Linked DNA regions of Homo sapiens: region 2 is linked to region 1. Evidence: fine-mapped expression QTL. Tissue or cell type: esophagus mucosa. Region 1 holds a variant in brackets; the other region holds the start of a gene. All regions are shown on one strand. Distances are from middle to middle.

Region 1 (8,197 bases):
CTGCCTCAGCCTCCCGAGTAGCTGGGACTACAGGCGCCTGCCACCATGCCCGGCTAATATTTTTGTATTTTTAGTAGAGACGGGGTTTCACCGTGTTAGCCAGGATGGTCTCGATCTCCTGACCTCGTGATCTGCCTGCCTCGGCCTCCCAAAGTGCTGGGATTACAGGCGTCAGCCACTGCGCCTGGCCCAAGGGATTCTTAGTTTTCAAAGCATTGGGGGCTCTTTCAGAGATACACTCTTAGGGTAGGGGGCTGTAAGTTTTCTCAATGTTTTACATTTTGTGCTTTAATTTTTGCTGGTACTCTAAATCAAATAAATACACAGTGTTCAGGATTATCTGGATGGCCATCTTAAATAACAGAGTGTTCTACACGACCACAGCCTCTGCACTTGTGCCTCTGATCCATATGACAGCAAGACCAACTATGCTTAACTTTTCATATGATTTCTCCAGTTGAGTCCTGAGAGCTTTCACAGAATTGTTGAACATTTCCTATGAGATCTGTGAGAGGACAAGGTGGACAACACTGGTTCAGAGCAGTGATTCTCAAGGTGGGATGGGATGGGGTGGGGTTGTGTCTCCGGAGAGATGCAGTCGTTTGAAAGAACACATTCAAAATACCCACTGATTTCATAACACCAACTCCACAAAGTCAAGAGGAAAAATGATTTCAGCTAATGGGCAGTAGCAGAAAACCAACCAAGGATTCATCATTGTGGAGAAGGAGTCTGTAGAAACATAGTTGAAAAACACTGGCTTAGAGGCAGAGGCATGCCGACACGTGGAGAACAGTAAGAAACGCGTGCCAAAGAGAAAGAACAATTGAGGGTGAGTGAGCGAATCCTAGGCCAGAACTTGTCACAATCTTCTGAAAACCAAAGAGCACATCAAGAAGAAAACCAAGATGGCCCATCAACCTTCTTGGCCCCGTGGTCAAGAGCAAGTTGATCCACTTTTAAATACTGAGGCAAAAGAAGAAAAAAGCTGTTTGTGCCCCCCAAATTCATCCACCAGGAAGTGCTGTCATCACATGCAATGCCATCCAGCTCTTGAGGAGGAAAGTCAGCGTGTGGCCTGCTCTGTGGTTACTGCAAAACTCCAATCTGCTTTAGCCGCGTCAGCAGTTCCCCACTCTATTGCATAGTGACTAGATCACTGCATCTGCCTATACAATCTTTACTGATAAAGACTCAAGGCCCCATTCTTGCTCCCGTGAGCTGTTCCAAATAATCTTGAATCTTGTTAGTGTGGTTGGTGGTTGTGATCTCGACAAATTCCAGAAGCCCTTGTTTGATGGGCAGTTGACTGAGGATCTCTTGGGTCCTCCTGCAGAATGGGAAGGTGGGCTTGATGAACACAACCACCTTCCCAGGCTGGATTTTGTAGTTCCCACACTCTTGAGCCATGCTGACAGGCTGCGGTCCCCCTGGGAAGAATCCTCAGTTGTAGGTATTGCATGAGTATTGAGCCAAACCTAATTCTTGTTTTACAAATAAACACACTCTTTACTTTTGCACAATCGTAATGTTTACTGAAATTTCCAGGCAGGCAACTGCCCTATAAGTTGAGGGAAGGCTCAACATGTATATATATATATTTTTTTGAGACGGAGTCTCACACTGTCGCCCAGGCCGAAGGGCAGTGGTGCCATCTCGGCTCACCGTAAGTTCTGCCTCCCAGGTTCACGCCATTCTCCTGCCTCAGCCTCCCAAGTAGCTGGGACTACAGGCGCCCGCCACCACGCCTGGCTAATTTTTTCTATTTTAGTAGAGATGGGGTTTCACCATGTTAGCCAGGATGGTCTCAATCTCCTGACCTCGTGATCTGCCCACCTTGGCCTCCCGAAGTGCTGGGATTACAGGCATGAGCCACCATGCCCGGCCAACATGTACTTTAAGAGTAACCAAATGTGCACCATCTCAGGCAATCTCATCATGGACAGTAAAGCGGTGGTGTGTGGTACAGAGCACCTGTGTCAGCCTACCCGCAGGTACAAACACCCGAGCGCTTCATTATAGTCAGACTCTAGCATTTATATATTTATGTACTTTCTTTTTTTTGAGATGGAGTCTCAGTCTGTCTCCCAGGCTGGGGTGCAGTGGTGCGATCTCAGCTCACTGCAACCTCTGCCTCCCGGATTCAAGCGATTCTCCTGCCTCAGCCTCCTGGAGTAGCTTGGACTAGGCGTGCACCACTACTCCCAGCTAATTTTTGTATTTTTAGTAGAGACGGGGTTTCGCCATGTTGGCCAGGCTGGTCTGGAACTCCTGGCCTCAAACAATCCATGCACCTTGGCCTCCCAAAGTGCTGGGATTACAGGTATGAGCCACTGCACCCAGCCTATATTATTTTACTATAAATGTTTTCTGTTGTTTATTCTTTTATAATTAGGGCAGTATAATGTCTTTCTAAAATATATGTATAGTTTATTTTATCTATAAAATTTCATTTCAGGATAATAAATATTTATAAAATTTCATGATAGTATCATAAATTTTTTTTTTTGAAGACATAGTCTCACTCTGTCACCCAGGGTGGAATGCAGTGGCGAGATCTCAGCTCACTGCAAGCTCTGCTTCCTGAGTTCAAATGATTCTCATGCCTCAGCCTCCTGAGTAGCTGGAATTACAGGCATGAGCCACCATGCCTGGCTAATTTTTGTATTTTTAGTAGAGACAGGGTTTCACCATGTTGGCCAGGCTGGTCTCGAACTCCTGACCTCAGGTGATCCACCTGCCTCAGCCTCCCAAAGTGCTGGTATTACACGTGTGAGCCACTGCGCCCAGGACCTTTCTTATTTTGCATATTAGTATGTGATGTGCAAAACATTTCAGATGGTAGAGTATGTCAAAATGAGATCTCTTCAGAAGTTCTGTGTTTACTGTGAGGCCTTATGGCACCGAGCTCCTAAATTATTTTTGACATAAAAAGGGAGTTAGCAGGTATTATAGGAGTTGAGCAGAACTATTCTGATTGAATCACCTCATTTTTCAAAGGCCTTGAAACCCAGGGAGATGGAATGCCCAAGGTCACAGGGATAACTAGTTTCAGAAGAACCAGACAGCCATGAATTCAGACCCAACCAGGACTTGGCCTCCTGCCACCAGCACTGCCGGCTCAGCCTGCCCAAGTCTCTGGAGGGCTCCTTGTCTCCACAGAAAACCTCCTTCTATGCCCCTGCTTTTGCCAAGGCCTGGACAATGATTTGGAACATCATGCCGTCTTACTAGGAAGCACAAAACCTTTGTCGGACTGTTATTATTATTTTTAACCTAGGACCTTTTCTTTCGTATGCAGAAATTACAGCTATAAAATAAACAGATCCCTTGTGCCTGGCTCTCTTTGGACACAAATTGCTGCCTGTCCTTGTCTGTTTAGAGTTGGATTCAAGGGCCTTCAAGAAAAATGGCCAAAAGGAAAAAAAAAAACAACTTCCTTGATTTGGGGAGACAATGGATTTTGTAGTTAAAGACTCAAAGCTTGGGACTCTAACCCATGAGTACCCTAGTACCCTCAACGACCACAATCCAGGGCCACAGGGTTGGTGGTACTTAGTTTCCATACACAGAATGTCCCCATCAACTGTATAAAAACTTGGGTTGCTCCAACGTTGGTTGTTCTGTCACTTGATTTATCCTGTATATTAAAGTCAAGGGACCCCTTTTTCCTCTAACATCTGTGATTTCAGGCGAGGACTCTAGAGGGAATAAATGAGGTGAGGACTACTTCACCAAGGGGGTGAGAGAAGATCTCATGTCTTCAGGTGCGGCTGAAGATGGGGACCCA[G/A]TTTTATAAAAAGCTGAGAGAAAAAAGGGCTGAGAGAAGAAAAGGGCCTAAAGCAGAAACAAGCTTGGACAATCAGGAGACAGGAGACCAGCGTGAATGAGAGACACGGTGCTGCTGAATGCCTTGGATGGATGGATGGACCCAACCTCACCCTATTTATGTAACCCATTTACCTAACGTAGCAAAATGGAGTTGGAAAGTAGCTGATCCTGGCTGGTGGCTCATGCCTGTAATCCTAGCACTTTGGGAGGTTGAGGCGTGAAGATCACTGGAGGTCAGGAGTTTGAGACCAGCCTGGCCAACATGGTGAAACCCCATCTCTACTGAAAAACAAAAAATTAGCCAGGCATGGTGGTGCATGCCTGTAATCCCAGCTACTCGGGATGCTGAGGCAGGAGGATTGCTTGAACCTGGGAGGTAGAGGTTGCAGTGAGCCAAGATCGTGCCACTGCACTCCAGCCTGGGTGACAGTGTGAGACTCTCTCAAAAAAAAAAAAAAAAAAGAAAAGAAAAGAAAGTAGCTGATCCCCAAGTTCAAGACAGTGACACCTCATATGGAAAGGGACCCCCGAGACTCTTCCACCTTCCTTGCCCAACCTGGGTAGGATGGCGTCTCCCTTGGGCTTAATCTGACCATCCCAGGAGGATATGTGGCCCAGGAAAGAAACAGAATGCACATCACCTTTGTGAGACAATTCTGGCAGGATTCATCAAGTGATCACACAAAGCCTTCAAAGACATAAAAAAGATACTATTATCAAGCAAATCCCAAGAGTCCCCAAAGATAGGAATGTATGTGTGACAGGGACAAGGTGTCTTATTGCCTTCTGGGTGCTGCTGTGCCAAGAGAGAAAATGGTCTCCAGACAATGTGTTCTCAGTGAGGTTTCCAGAAACTCATCAAAGAATGGCCTATATGATCATAGATTTCAAAGATGTTACTGTTTTAGGAGGGGAAAAGGGGTCTGGAGAGAAGGCCCAGAAACCACGCAGTTCCTGACACCCAACAAGAATGCAGGGAGGGGCCAAAAGGCATTCACAGGAGGAGGAGGCACTCAGGGACATGCCAGGCTTTTATTCCAAGGTGTCCTTGAGGAAGAACAAGATTAGGAGGCTCGGCTGAGAAGAGAAAAATTCATGTCAAAGGAAAATTGAGTAGAGGAGCGAGATGAGTGAGTTTTCAGAAAAGGGTAAGATCAGGAGAGAAAAAGAGACAAGAGAAGTTGACTCCTGCCCAACAGGAATGTGAAGAGGAAAGACAGGGTCTTCAGGAAGCCTAGAGACTGATCTTATACATCTGGGTATGGCCCATGTCTCACTGAGCTGCTGAGAATGGAAGCTGAAAGGGCAAAGTCTTTAGAGGTAGGAGATACACTTAGAGATCTCTCTGGTCCAGGAGAGAGAGAGAAACAACAACAACAAAAAACTGTCTGGGCCTGGTGCAGTGACTCACGCCTGTAATCCCAGCACTTTGGGAGGCCAAGGCAGGCAGATCACCTAAGGTCCCGGGTTTGAGACCAGCCTGGTTAACATGGTGAAACCCCGTCTCTACTAAAAATACAAAAATTAGCCGGGGAAGGTAGTGGGAGCCTATAATCCCAGCTACTCGGGAGGCTGAGGCAGGAGAATCGCTTGAACTCGGGAGGTGGAGGTTGCAGTGAGCTAAGATCACGCCATTGCATTACAGCTGACAAGAGCGAAACTCCGTCCCCCAAGAAAAGAAAACCTGTCTGTCTCCCTGGGGTGGACAGGATGCCCTAGTTTTATGTGTGTTTGAATCTCCAAAAATACCTGCATTATTTTTCATGGGAAAAGGTCCTAGATAAAATAACTCAGATTGCCCTTAAAATCCCACAGATGCTGGCGAGGCTGCAGAGAAACGGGAACACTTGTACACTATTGGTGGGAATGTAAGTAATTTTGGCCACTGTGGAAAGCAGTTTGGAGATTTCTCAAAGAACTTAGAGTTACCGTTTGATCCAGAAATCCTATTCCTAGGTATATATCAAAGGAAAACAGATCATTTTTCAAAAGAGATAAATGCACTGGTATGTTCCTCACCTTGCTAGTCACAATAACAAAGACATAGAATCAACCTAGGTGCCCATCAACAGTGGATTGGATTAAGACAATGTGGTATTATACATATACAACATGGAATATTATGCAGCCTTAAAAAAGGACAAAATTATGTCCTTTGCAGCAATGTGGATGGAGCTGGCAGTCATAATCCTAAGTGTATAACACAGGAACAGAAAGCCAAATACTGCATGTTCTCACTTATAAGTGGGAGCTAAACATTGAGCGTCCACAGACATAAACATGGGAATAACAGATACTGCAGACTACTAGAGCAGGGATGGAGGGAGGCATGGGTTGAAAAACTACCTACTGGGTATAATGCTTATTACCTGAGTACAATACACCCATGTAACAAACCTGCACATGTACCTCCTGTATCTAAAATAAAAGTTGGAGGAAAAAAATCCCAGAATGTTAACAGAACTAAAATTCCCCCAAATCTAATGTCTAATATCTCAGATGAAAGCTTGGCAACTCAACTGGAAGACAGCAACCCACAGGGAGACAGAAAGTCAGTGTTAACATCTGAGACAGCACAGCCATACTGACTGAGAAGCTCTGCGGAAAAGCACTTCCCAAAGGCTATGAGGAATAATGGGAGGAATTTCATAGGGGGTCATGGGAGAGACTCTACTCTCCGTGTCATTGACTCCCAATAACCAGGAAGGCAACAGGAGAGAAGACAACATCCTGAAGGTGGCTGCATAGGGTAGGGATTGAGATGATGGGTGCTAGAGTCCAATCATCTGGGATCAAATCCTGCCTTTGCCACCCAGCATTGCAGCACAGGCAAGATTCTTACTTGATTCTTCTAAGCTTCAATTTTACATCAATTAATGAAGATACTATAGTTGATGGGAGAGTTATGAACTGAATCTGCAGCCAGTGAGCTTTCTGTATGCTGGCTGGTGTTGTTACCAGCTCTACATCACAGCTGTACATTCTGCCTTAAAGGGAATTCCTGGAGCCCGTATAGATCTGAAGGAGTCCATTTCAATGGGGGGATTTCTTTTTAAAAATTTTTTATTTCTGGCTGGGCACGTTGGCTCATGCCCATAATCCCAGCACTTTGGGAGGCCAAGGTAGGTGGATCACCTGAGGTCGGGAGCTCGAGACCAGCCTGGCCAACATGGAGAAATCCCATCTCTACTAAAAATATAAAATTAGCCGGGTGTGGTAGCACATGCCTGTAATCCCAGCTACTTGGGAGGCTGAGGCAGGAGAATCGCTTGAACCTGGGAGGCAGAGGTTGCAGTGAGCCAAGTTCGCGCCATTGCACTCCAACCTGGGCAACGAGAGCAAAACTCCGTTTAAAAAAAAAAGAAAATATTTCCATAGGTTTTCGGGGGAACAGGTGGTATTTGGTTACATGAGGAAGTTCTTTAGCGGTGACTTGTGAGGTTTTTTTTTTTTTTTTTTTTTTGGAGACGGAGTCTCACTCTGTTGCCCAGGCTGGAGTGCAGTGGTACGATCTTAGCTCATTGCAACCTCCACCTCCTGGGTTCAAGCAGTTCTCCTGCCTCAGCCTCCCGAGTAGCTGGGATTACAGGAGCACGCCACCACACCTAGCTAATTTTTTTGTATTTTAGTAGAGATGGGGTTTCACCATGTTGCGCAGGGTGGTTTCAAACTCCTGAGCTCAGGCAATCCATCTGCCTGGGCCTACCAAAGTGCTGGGATTATACCACCACACCCGGCCAACTGGTGAGATTTTGGTGCACCCATCACCAGAGCAGCATACCCTGAACCCAATTTGTAGTCTTGTATCCCTCTCCTGCGTTGCACCCCATGGGAGAATTTCTGAATGTGATGCCCCTGCCCCCTCGTCTAAGTATTGGTTTTGCCATACGAGGACAACACTCTGGTCCGGGACAAGATATGAGTGGAGACGTGCTGGGACTTCAGATCAAGATTTCAGAGAAATCAAATCTCCTGCCCATTTGGTGCCAGAAGCGATTTCAGAGAGAGACTGAACAACAAGGGCAACAGTGAGTATTTTGTGCTCACTGTGAAGCAGACATGGTTCCAAACACCCTGCCTACGTCACCTGGTCTACTCCTCAGAACAACTCTGAGGTGTGATTATTATCAGCCCATGTTACAGACTGAGAAACTGAACAGGGGATTGAAGTACCTCGAATGACATAATTCCATCATATACTGCAACCTCCTTAGTTGCAAAGCACGTGGAAGCATCTGCTTGACTCAAATATCTCGTGCTGGCCAGGCACGGTGGCTCACACCTGTAACTCCAGCACTTTGGGAGGCTGAGGTGGGAGGATTGCTTGAGCCCTAGAGTTCAAGACCAGCCTGGGCAACATAGTGAA
Region 2 (8,147 bases), 44 kb after region 1:
CTAGCAACTTCGTAGCTCCACTTGCATCCCGTATTTCTGTTCTTCTTTTCCCTGGTTCTGAAGTTTTATTTGTATTTTATGATTATTTTCCTGTATACTTTGTCTGCTACCTCAAAGTCTTTGCAGAATAAAGCATGGTGGAATTAATTTTTAGAGGAAAAACACCATCATGTAATGTTACAATAAAAATGCAAGATATGAGTGGTTTATAGAATATAATTCTAATTTTTAAAAATGCATATGTATATAAGTATACGCAGAGGAAAAAGGAGACCAGAAGAAAATGGACCAAAACATGAACAGTGGTTAATTTGGATGATATTACTGCATATAACTTGATTTTTTTCTTCTTTATACTTTATTTTACAAAAAACCTGAACCTTCAGCTTTTTCATCTATAACGGGGGAGTGTTATGCCTACCTCATGGAGTTGTGTTGGCTGAAATGAAGTGTGAATGTCACACAGCAATGAGCTGCATTGCACATTCACATAATAATCATACAGTATGTGCCTAATACGGGCCTGATAAAGGTTAGCCAGTGCTGTTATTACAACAATTAGTGAAACAATTTAAAAGGAAATGTTACAAATGAGAAATAAAAATCAGCCCACACTGACATCATGTTTTTTACCTTTTAACACGCACGCACTTACAAGAGCTCATTGTCCCTCACAAGAACCCTGTGACAGGGGCAGGCTTACGCAGACGGAGGGAGCAGGGGGCAGGACTAATATTCACCAAATAGCTGATGTGCCAGATACCAAGGTGGGCACTCTGTAGATGCCTCAGATGAGAAAAGGATGGGGCTCGGAATAGTTAAGAGGCTTGCCCAAGATACAGAGGCAGGATGAAAAGCTCCCACTCCAGACTCTTTGTCCAGGTTTCTTTCCACTCCTCCATGCCACATTGTCATATTCGTATCCCCAAAGCCCATGTTCCTATATGGCCACCTACCCATGCCACTCTCAGTTCCTGCTACATGGATGCACCTGTCCACACACACACTCTGCTCCTTCCTGCCTCTGTGCCCACTGGGAGCACCAAGAGATGGTTTTTCATGGTGGTGGGAAAGATTCAGCCATCAAATCTCCCATCAAAACCACCCTAAGTTACCATTCAATCTAAAAAAATCCTGTACTTGCTATGCAAACACAGTAGAGTCAAGGTCACTTCCAAAGTGACACCTCCTAATCAGTTTGTTCATCCCAAGTCTTGCCTATGTGGAGATTCTGGAACTGTCTTCTGGGACGTGGGAGGTGATGTGAGGAGGGGCTTGTGGAACACGGCTAAGAGTCCAGCAGATAGTGTGGGCTCAGGGGGAGAACCATGGGGGTGTTATTCCTCCTTCACCAATCTTGGGCCCATTCTGGTCTGCTGCAAGGTTTCCTGCCTGATACCCAGTTATGGTGGTGCCATCATGGCCTGCTGATGGGCCGCACCATCTGGGATGGGATGGGGGCTGGGAGCCAGGCACTTCAGATACAGCCGGTGTGTCCCTAATCATACTGGTCCTCTGCCTCGCCTCCTGTGCATCAGCTGAAGCCCTGGATTCCTGGACTAGCCCTGGGAAGTCTTTCATGATGAATCTGACCTGAAGCCAATCTCTTTTGTCTTTTGTGCTGCTTCTCCTGGCAGAATGTCTATGTAGCACAGCCATGTGTGGGAGCCTCAAGGAGGCTCAACTTGTCGCCCCACCTCACCAGCGAGCTCTTCTAGAGTGCACAGGGGCAGTAGCTACAGAGCGCTCAGCACATGCACCCTGGGCTGTTTGCAACTGCCAGCCTTTTTTGCAGCTTGGAGGCCACTTCCTCTCCGTCTAACTCTTCCAACCTCCCTCCCCTGCTCCAGGTCTCTTTTTGCCCCCCTCAGAATTTATTTCTACAGCATCTTCCCTAACCCCCATTAATCACTTGATTATTCTTCAAGGATGAACAATCTTTAGGGGTGTGGCGCAGACTCCCCCAAATCATTTTCCTTCTGCTGGGAAATAAACACAGCTGATTGTAGCTGTGCTACATCTTTGCTAAAAAATTCTCAATGGCTCCCAGGTGCCTCTAGGTAAATTCCAGCTCCTCAGTCTGTCAGTGAAGGTCCTACCCCCGCCTCCATCCCATTAGCCAGCAGACCTTCCTAGTCTTCCTTCCACCACTCCAACCAGCTCATGGGGCCCCTGAGTGCGATTCTCTCCTACTCTAGAGTGCAACCGCGCTTTCAGTTCCCAAACCCAAGTTATGCCTAACACGAATTGATTCAGCCCAAAGGTCACTTCCCTGGTTCTTCCTGGTGGAAAATTTTCCATCTTTTGAACCGTCATTGGCACTTTTGCTTCCTCACTTTCAGTCTGCTGTTCTGATTTTTTCTCGGTAAGTGTGAAGTCGAGGGCAGAATCTTTTAAAATCTGCACTTCCCCTCTGACTGACTCAGTAAATGTTTAGTTTCCTGTCCCTATCTGTAAAAGCCTTCTTCCCCATGAACTCAAGCCGTGTCTCCTTCATTAGACTGAAAATCTCCCAGAGCAGAGCGTCTCCAATTTAAGGATCATTCCAATCCTTTGGGGACTTTGTTAACATGCAGATTCTGACTCGGCAGGTCTGCAGAGGGGACTGAGACTGCATTTCTAACAAGCTGCCAGGTGACGCTGAAGCTGCCGGTGCCTGGACCACATTAGAGCAGCGGGGAGGCAATACCACCTGTTGATCAGGCGACAGCTCATGTCAGTGGAGTCTGGCTGGGCGCCCAGATGGATGAATGAAAGGATGAGAGGGTCGGTCCTGCCCCCCGGAGGAAGTGGAGGCCGCCCGGAGGTTGTCAGCGAGTCCGGCCAGCACACTTACCTATGGTGGAAACGACGGTGCCCACGAAGTAGAAGGCGCCGGTGAAGTCCCAGCGCGGGCGGACGTTGTCCACGCGGATGCCGGCCCGAGTGGCCTCCTCGTAGTGGCGGAGGAAGCCGCGCAGCTCGTCGCGGCTCAGGTTGTGGCCGCGGCTGAAGTTGGCCAGGCGCTCCTCCCAGCGCTGCTTGGCCTGGCGCTCGTGCGCCAGCTCCAGCGCGGAGAAGACGGCGGCGCCGCCCAGCAGGTAGAGCACGATGAGCGCGGCCAGCAGCAGAAAGCGCGCGTTGTCCTCGTTCAGGTGGCCCGGGCCCCAGCTGAAACCCCGGCCAGCCATGGCCGGGCCCCCGGGGGCAGCCCCCAGGCCCACGGCACCGGGCGTCGGCGGAGTCTCGCCCACACCCCCGGGAAATAAGGGCCCCGGCGCTCAGCCAGCTCCCGGGCGCCCCACCGCCGGCTCGCCCATGACCGCCGGGCTCTCCCGCAGGCCGCGAGGCTCCCCCGGCCGCCGCCTCGGTAGCTCCTGTGGCGCCAGCTCCCCACGTCCTCCTTGACTCCTAGTTTCAAATCCGCTTTGTCGCCGCCGTTCCCCTCCACTCCCCCTGCTCTCCTCGGAGTTCTCCTTAACGCTGAAGGTCCCGGGGAACGGGCGCAGAGTTCACGTCTGCTTGGCGCTGGGATGCGGGCGCAGTTTCCACCCCGGCTCCCTGTCCGGCTCAGATAGGGGAGGGGGCGTGGCGCGTCTTCAGGGCAAGCTCGAGCCAACTCGAGTTTCCCGCAAAGAGACGGTCGCGGGGCGGGGCGGGGCGGGGCGGGGCGGCGGGGGGGGGGCGCGGTCCGGAGGTCTGCGGGTAAGCAGAGCGCCGGGGTCCTGGGTCCTGGTTCCTTTGACTATCGCTTCGCAGGCCGCCGACGGCTAGGACACGGGTGTCAGTCTGCTGGCTTTGTAGGTGCCTCCCCAGGTAGATCGACGATGGTGCCTCCTAGTTGTGGTCGTGGTGTCGCGCTGAGCCTGTGGCCTCCCGAGTCTCCGAATCGGCTGCCGGGGCTTAGGGATGGAGGGGGTCCAGGGCGGGCGCACGGAGAGAGGGGCTGTGCTGAGCGGCGTCCGAGGGCTGCGGCGTCCGAGGGCTCCGACCTCCGGCCGGGCCCCAACGCTGCGCATCCGTTGGGCGGACGGGCTGGAGAGAGGAGACCAGAAAGGGAGGTTGGAACAGGGAGCAAAGGAAGTTAGGGGCTTCTCCCCCGGGCAGCCTCCCTCGCCTTGACCATGCCAGAGCGCCCTTGGTCTCTGGATCCTGCGCGGGGGCGTCCTCTGCGCCTACTAGTAGGCTCCGCCCGGACCAAGCGCGCACCGCGAGCCAGCCCCGCTTCCGGAGAGGAGGCCAAACACTGGGGGCTGGAAGGGCTCCGCGGCCAGGAGACCTTGACCTTGGAGCGTTCCATCTCTTCCCCCCGGGCTTGGCTGCCTAGTGCGTTCCAGAGTTTTGCCTGGACGCGGGGTCCGCGCAGAAGGCATCCCCCACCTCATGCAGAACAGTAGCAAGGCTCTCCAGCAAACCGCCGGGGCCCCCTCCCCGAGACCCCGCCTTGTAGCGGGCGCTGGCGCCGCTGCCGCGCTCAGATCTCACCTTCCGGGGAGCGCCCTCTCCGCGCCGCTCCGTCGGGACTGTTCCCGGGCCTCCTGGCAGCCGCGGCCCTGCCCTGCCAGCCGGCGCGCGGAGCACAGGTCCGCACCGCGCTCTGCCTTCTCAGGCGGGCGCGCTCCGACGCTGCAACAGGTAGAGCCGTGCGGCTGCCAGCTGCGGCGACTCCACCCTGTCGCCCGCCTCCTTGCGCGCGGGCCCGCCTCCTGCGCTGGTCTCCGCGGGTAGACGCTCGGCGTTCGAAGGGCCGACCCGGGGCTGCGGTGCTCCCACCAGGGCGCGCAGATCTGGGTAGTGGATGCAGAACCGGCTGGTGGGACGCTCAGCCGGTCCGCGTGGGCCCTCCGGGGCCGGGAGAGGGCGCTCTGCCCCCTCCAGACACATCCCGCCCCCGCCCGCGCACACAGCCCCGCGCGGCCCTCCGGAATCACCCGCCCGGGCGTGTGGGAGCGAATCTGTACGCGGAGAGGAATGGATACGTGGGCATCTTCCCACCTTCCGAGAGAGCGGTTTCAGGCGCAGAGCCCCACACACCGCCCTTACGCACCAGGAGCAGAGACAGAAGGGCTAGGAGCCCTGTTGAGTAAAACCGTGTGATTTCGAATAAAGAAACACAGCTCTGGCGAGTGCATTTTCATCAGAAACCCTGGTGCTGTTAGCAGTCCTCTCGGCTCTGTTACTCACTCCCCAATGCCCCTCTTTCATCTAGCCTTCTGAGGGGCAAGAGCTTTAGGGGCATCGCGAGAATGGGTGCATGTGTATACACCCAGGGTGAGTACTGCAATTACCTTTTAAATCCATTTTATTATGAAAAATTTCAAACATTCTAAAAAGTTGAATTTTACAGTGAACACCCGTATACCCACCACCTAGATTCTACAATTAACATGTTACTATACTTGATTTATTAGATATCTACCCGTCCCTCTGTCCATCCATCAACCCATCTTGTTTGGATGCATTTCAGAGTAAGTTGCAGAGCTTGGTACACTTCCGCCCTCATCCCCAGTACTTCTGCCTGCATATCACTACGTAGGGTTCAATATTTACTTGCAGAATTTTTTTCCTTTTCGGATAAAATTTACATACAATGAAATGCACAAATCTTAAGTGTATCATTAGGTGAGTTCTGACAAATGGGTACACCTCTGCAAATCACCTATCCAACCTACCAGCCAAACATCACCAACAGGGTCCCCCTAAGTCCCTTCCCTGTAACTCCCTACCCACATTCCTCCAGAGAAAACCACTGTTCAGAATTTTTCTACCATCGATTACTTTCGCTTTTATAGAACTGTTTTTTTGTTCTAAATCTCCATATAAATGGAATCATGCCGGTATGTACTCTTTGGTGGAAAACATTATGTTTTTGAGATTTACCCATGTTATATGTCTTAGTAATTCCTTCCTCTTTATTGCTAGTTTTTCATTGTTTGGGTATACCATAGTTTGTTTATTCATTCTCCTCCTATTGATAGAAAGGAGAACTGTTAGAAAATTTTGGTCATCATAAATAAAACTGTTAGGAACATTCTTGTACAACTATGTAGACATATGTTTTCATATCTCTTACGTAAAGACCTAGGAGCGGAATTGCTGGGTCATAGGGTAGGTATGTATTTTGCTTTATGAGAAACTGCCCGACATTTTCCCAAAGCAGCTGTACTGACAGTGTACACTAGTTCTGGATGCTCCGTATCTTTGTCAACATTTGGCAGTATCAGTCATTTTAATTTTAAAACTACTGGTGGATGTAGCAATATCTCACTGTGGTTTTAATTTGCATTTCCCTGATGTCTAAAAATACTGGTGGATGTAGCGATATCTCACTGTGGTTTTAATTTGCATTTCCCTGATGTCTAATGCGCTTGCTGGCCACTTGTGTACCTTCTCTTGTGAATTTTCTGTTGAAATATTTTGCCCACTTAAAAAATTAGTTTCTCTGTTACTGAATTATAGAGATCCTTTATATATGCAGGATACGAGTACTTTCTCAGATACATATCTTGCAAATATTTTCTAACTCTGATTTGCCTATTTATTTTCTTAAATATGTTTTCTGTATGTTTGGTGCCCTTTGAGAAATCATTACCTCCTTCAAGGTTGCATAGGTTTTCTGTCTCCCCACACTTTTATATTTGGGTCTACGATCCATTTAAGTTTGTTTCCTTATGGTATGAGGTAAGAGTCAAAGGTCATTTTGTCCAGGTGGATTTCCAGTTATTCCAATGCTATTTGTTGAAAAGATAAATATGCCTGAGTTTCAGGAATTTAATTTGTTCATTATTTGCCCACCCTTATGCTAATACCACAGGATTTACATACTTATAGCTCTATAGTAGGTCTTTAGTGGGACTATAATTGAGTCCTCTAACTTTGTTCTTCTTTTTCAAGATTCTTTGGATGTTATAAAACTTTTACACTTCCACTAAAAAATCATAGAATCAGCTTAATTTCCTCCAAAAAGCTGTGGGATCTTGATTTCTGGGATTGTGTTGGATCTATTTTGGGAAGAACATCTTGACAATTCATGAAAGAGGTATATTCCTCTATTTATTTAGGGTTTCTTAACCAAGTTTTCATATGGAGATTTTGCACATCTCTTGTAAATTCATTCTAAAGTATTTTATATTCTTTTGATGTTATTGTAAATGGAATTTCAAAATTTTACTTTTCAATTGTTTGCTGTAGTCCATAAAAATACACGATTGTTGCAAAAATACTTGAATTCTTCAACCTTGCTACTTTAGTCATCAGTTGTACATGTTTTGTTGATTCCTTTAGGAGTTTCTTTGTAAATAATCATGTCATCTACAAGTTTTGCTTTTTTCTTCCTGATCTTTATCATCTTTTCCCCCTCTTGTCTGCAACGGCTAGAGCCTCAGTACATTATTCAATAGAAGTGGAAGCAGATATCCTTGTCTTATGATCTTAGGAGAAAACTTTCCTTTTATCATCATTTATATAATGTTAGCTGTGGGGTTTTCATAGAAACTATCGGATTAAGGAAGTTTCCTTTTATTGTTGTTTCTAGTTTTCTGGTGTTTTTGGTTTTTTGTTTTTTTTTTTTTTTTTTTTTTTTGAGACGGAGTCTCGCTCTGTCGCCCAGGCCGGAGTGCAGTGGCGCGATCTCGGCTCACCGCAAGCTCCGCCTCCCGGGTTCACGCCATTCTCCTGCCTCAGCCTCCCAAGTAGCTGGGACTACAGGCGCCCGCCACCATGCCCAGCTAATTTTTTGTTTTTTAGTAGAGACGGGGTTTCACCGTGTCAGCCAGGATGGTCTCGATCTCCTGACCTCGTGGTCCACCCGCCTCGGCGTCCCAAAGTGCTGGGATTACAGGCGTGAGCCACCGCGCCTGGCCGAGTTTTTTGTTTTTAATGAAGCATGAATGAGTACTGAATTTTGTTAAATGCCATATCTGCATCTATGGTGATGATCATATAGTTTTCTCCTTTATTCTGCTAATATGTTGTATTTCACTGATTGCCTTTCTAATGTTAAGCCAATCTTGCATTTCTGGGATATGTTGCACTTGGGGTTTCCACTCTATTCTTTTTATTCCTCTACTTCTGAGTTTACTCTTCTTTTTCTAGCTTCTTATGGTGGATGTTTAGATCACCGATTTTAGACCTTTCTTCTTTGCTAATGTTAGTGTTGCTGGACTTTT

Direction of the effects. Alleles are on the strand shown, and positions count from the first base shown. SD is a standard deviation of normalised expression in the study named.
With allele A in place of G in region 1, the expression in esophagus mucosa of the gene that starts at base 3,382 in region 2 is higher (moderate effect, 0.51 SD a copy in GTEx).

What was found. PIP is the estimated chance that this variant, and not a neighbour inherited with it, causes the effect.
Region 2: it holds the start of KCNK13, and the variant in region 1 is fine-mapped to the expression of KCNK13 in esophagus mucosa (GTEx, PIP 0.92).

Annotation. Positions count from the first base shown.
Region 1 is chr14:90,100,888-90,109,084 of GRCh38, reverse strand. The region is part of intron 1 of KCNK13 (potassium two pore domain channel subfamily K member 13); the gene reads right to left. It also overlaps the pseudogene GLRXP2. Among named protein-coding and RNA genes, the nearest start is that of KCNK13, 43 kb to the right of the region's middle. The variant G/A (reference allele first, on the strand shown) is at 3,791.
Region 2 is chr14:90,057,229-90,065,375 of GRCh38, reverse strand. It overlaps KCNK13 (potassium two pore domain channel subfamily K member 13), which reads right to left and starts at 3,382. Exons shown (of 2, transcript NM_022054.4): 1 at 2,837-3,382. The coding sequence starts at 3,170. It overlaps LOC124903406, which reads right to left. Exons shown (of 3, transcript XM_047432048.1): 2 at 4,465-4,974; 3 at 3,643-4,014. The coding sequence ends at 3,750. RefSeq lists enhancers at 3,440-3,939, 3,940-4,441 and a silencer at 4,690-5,079.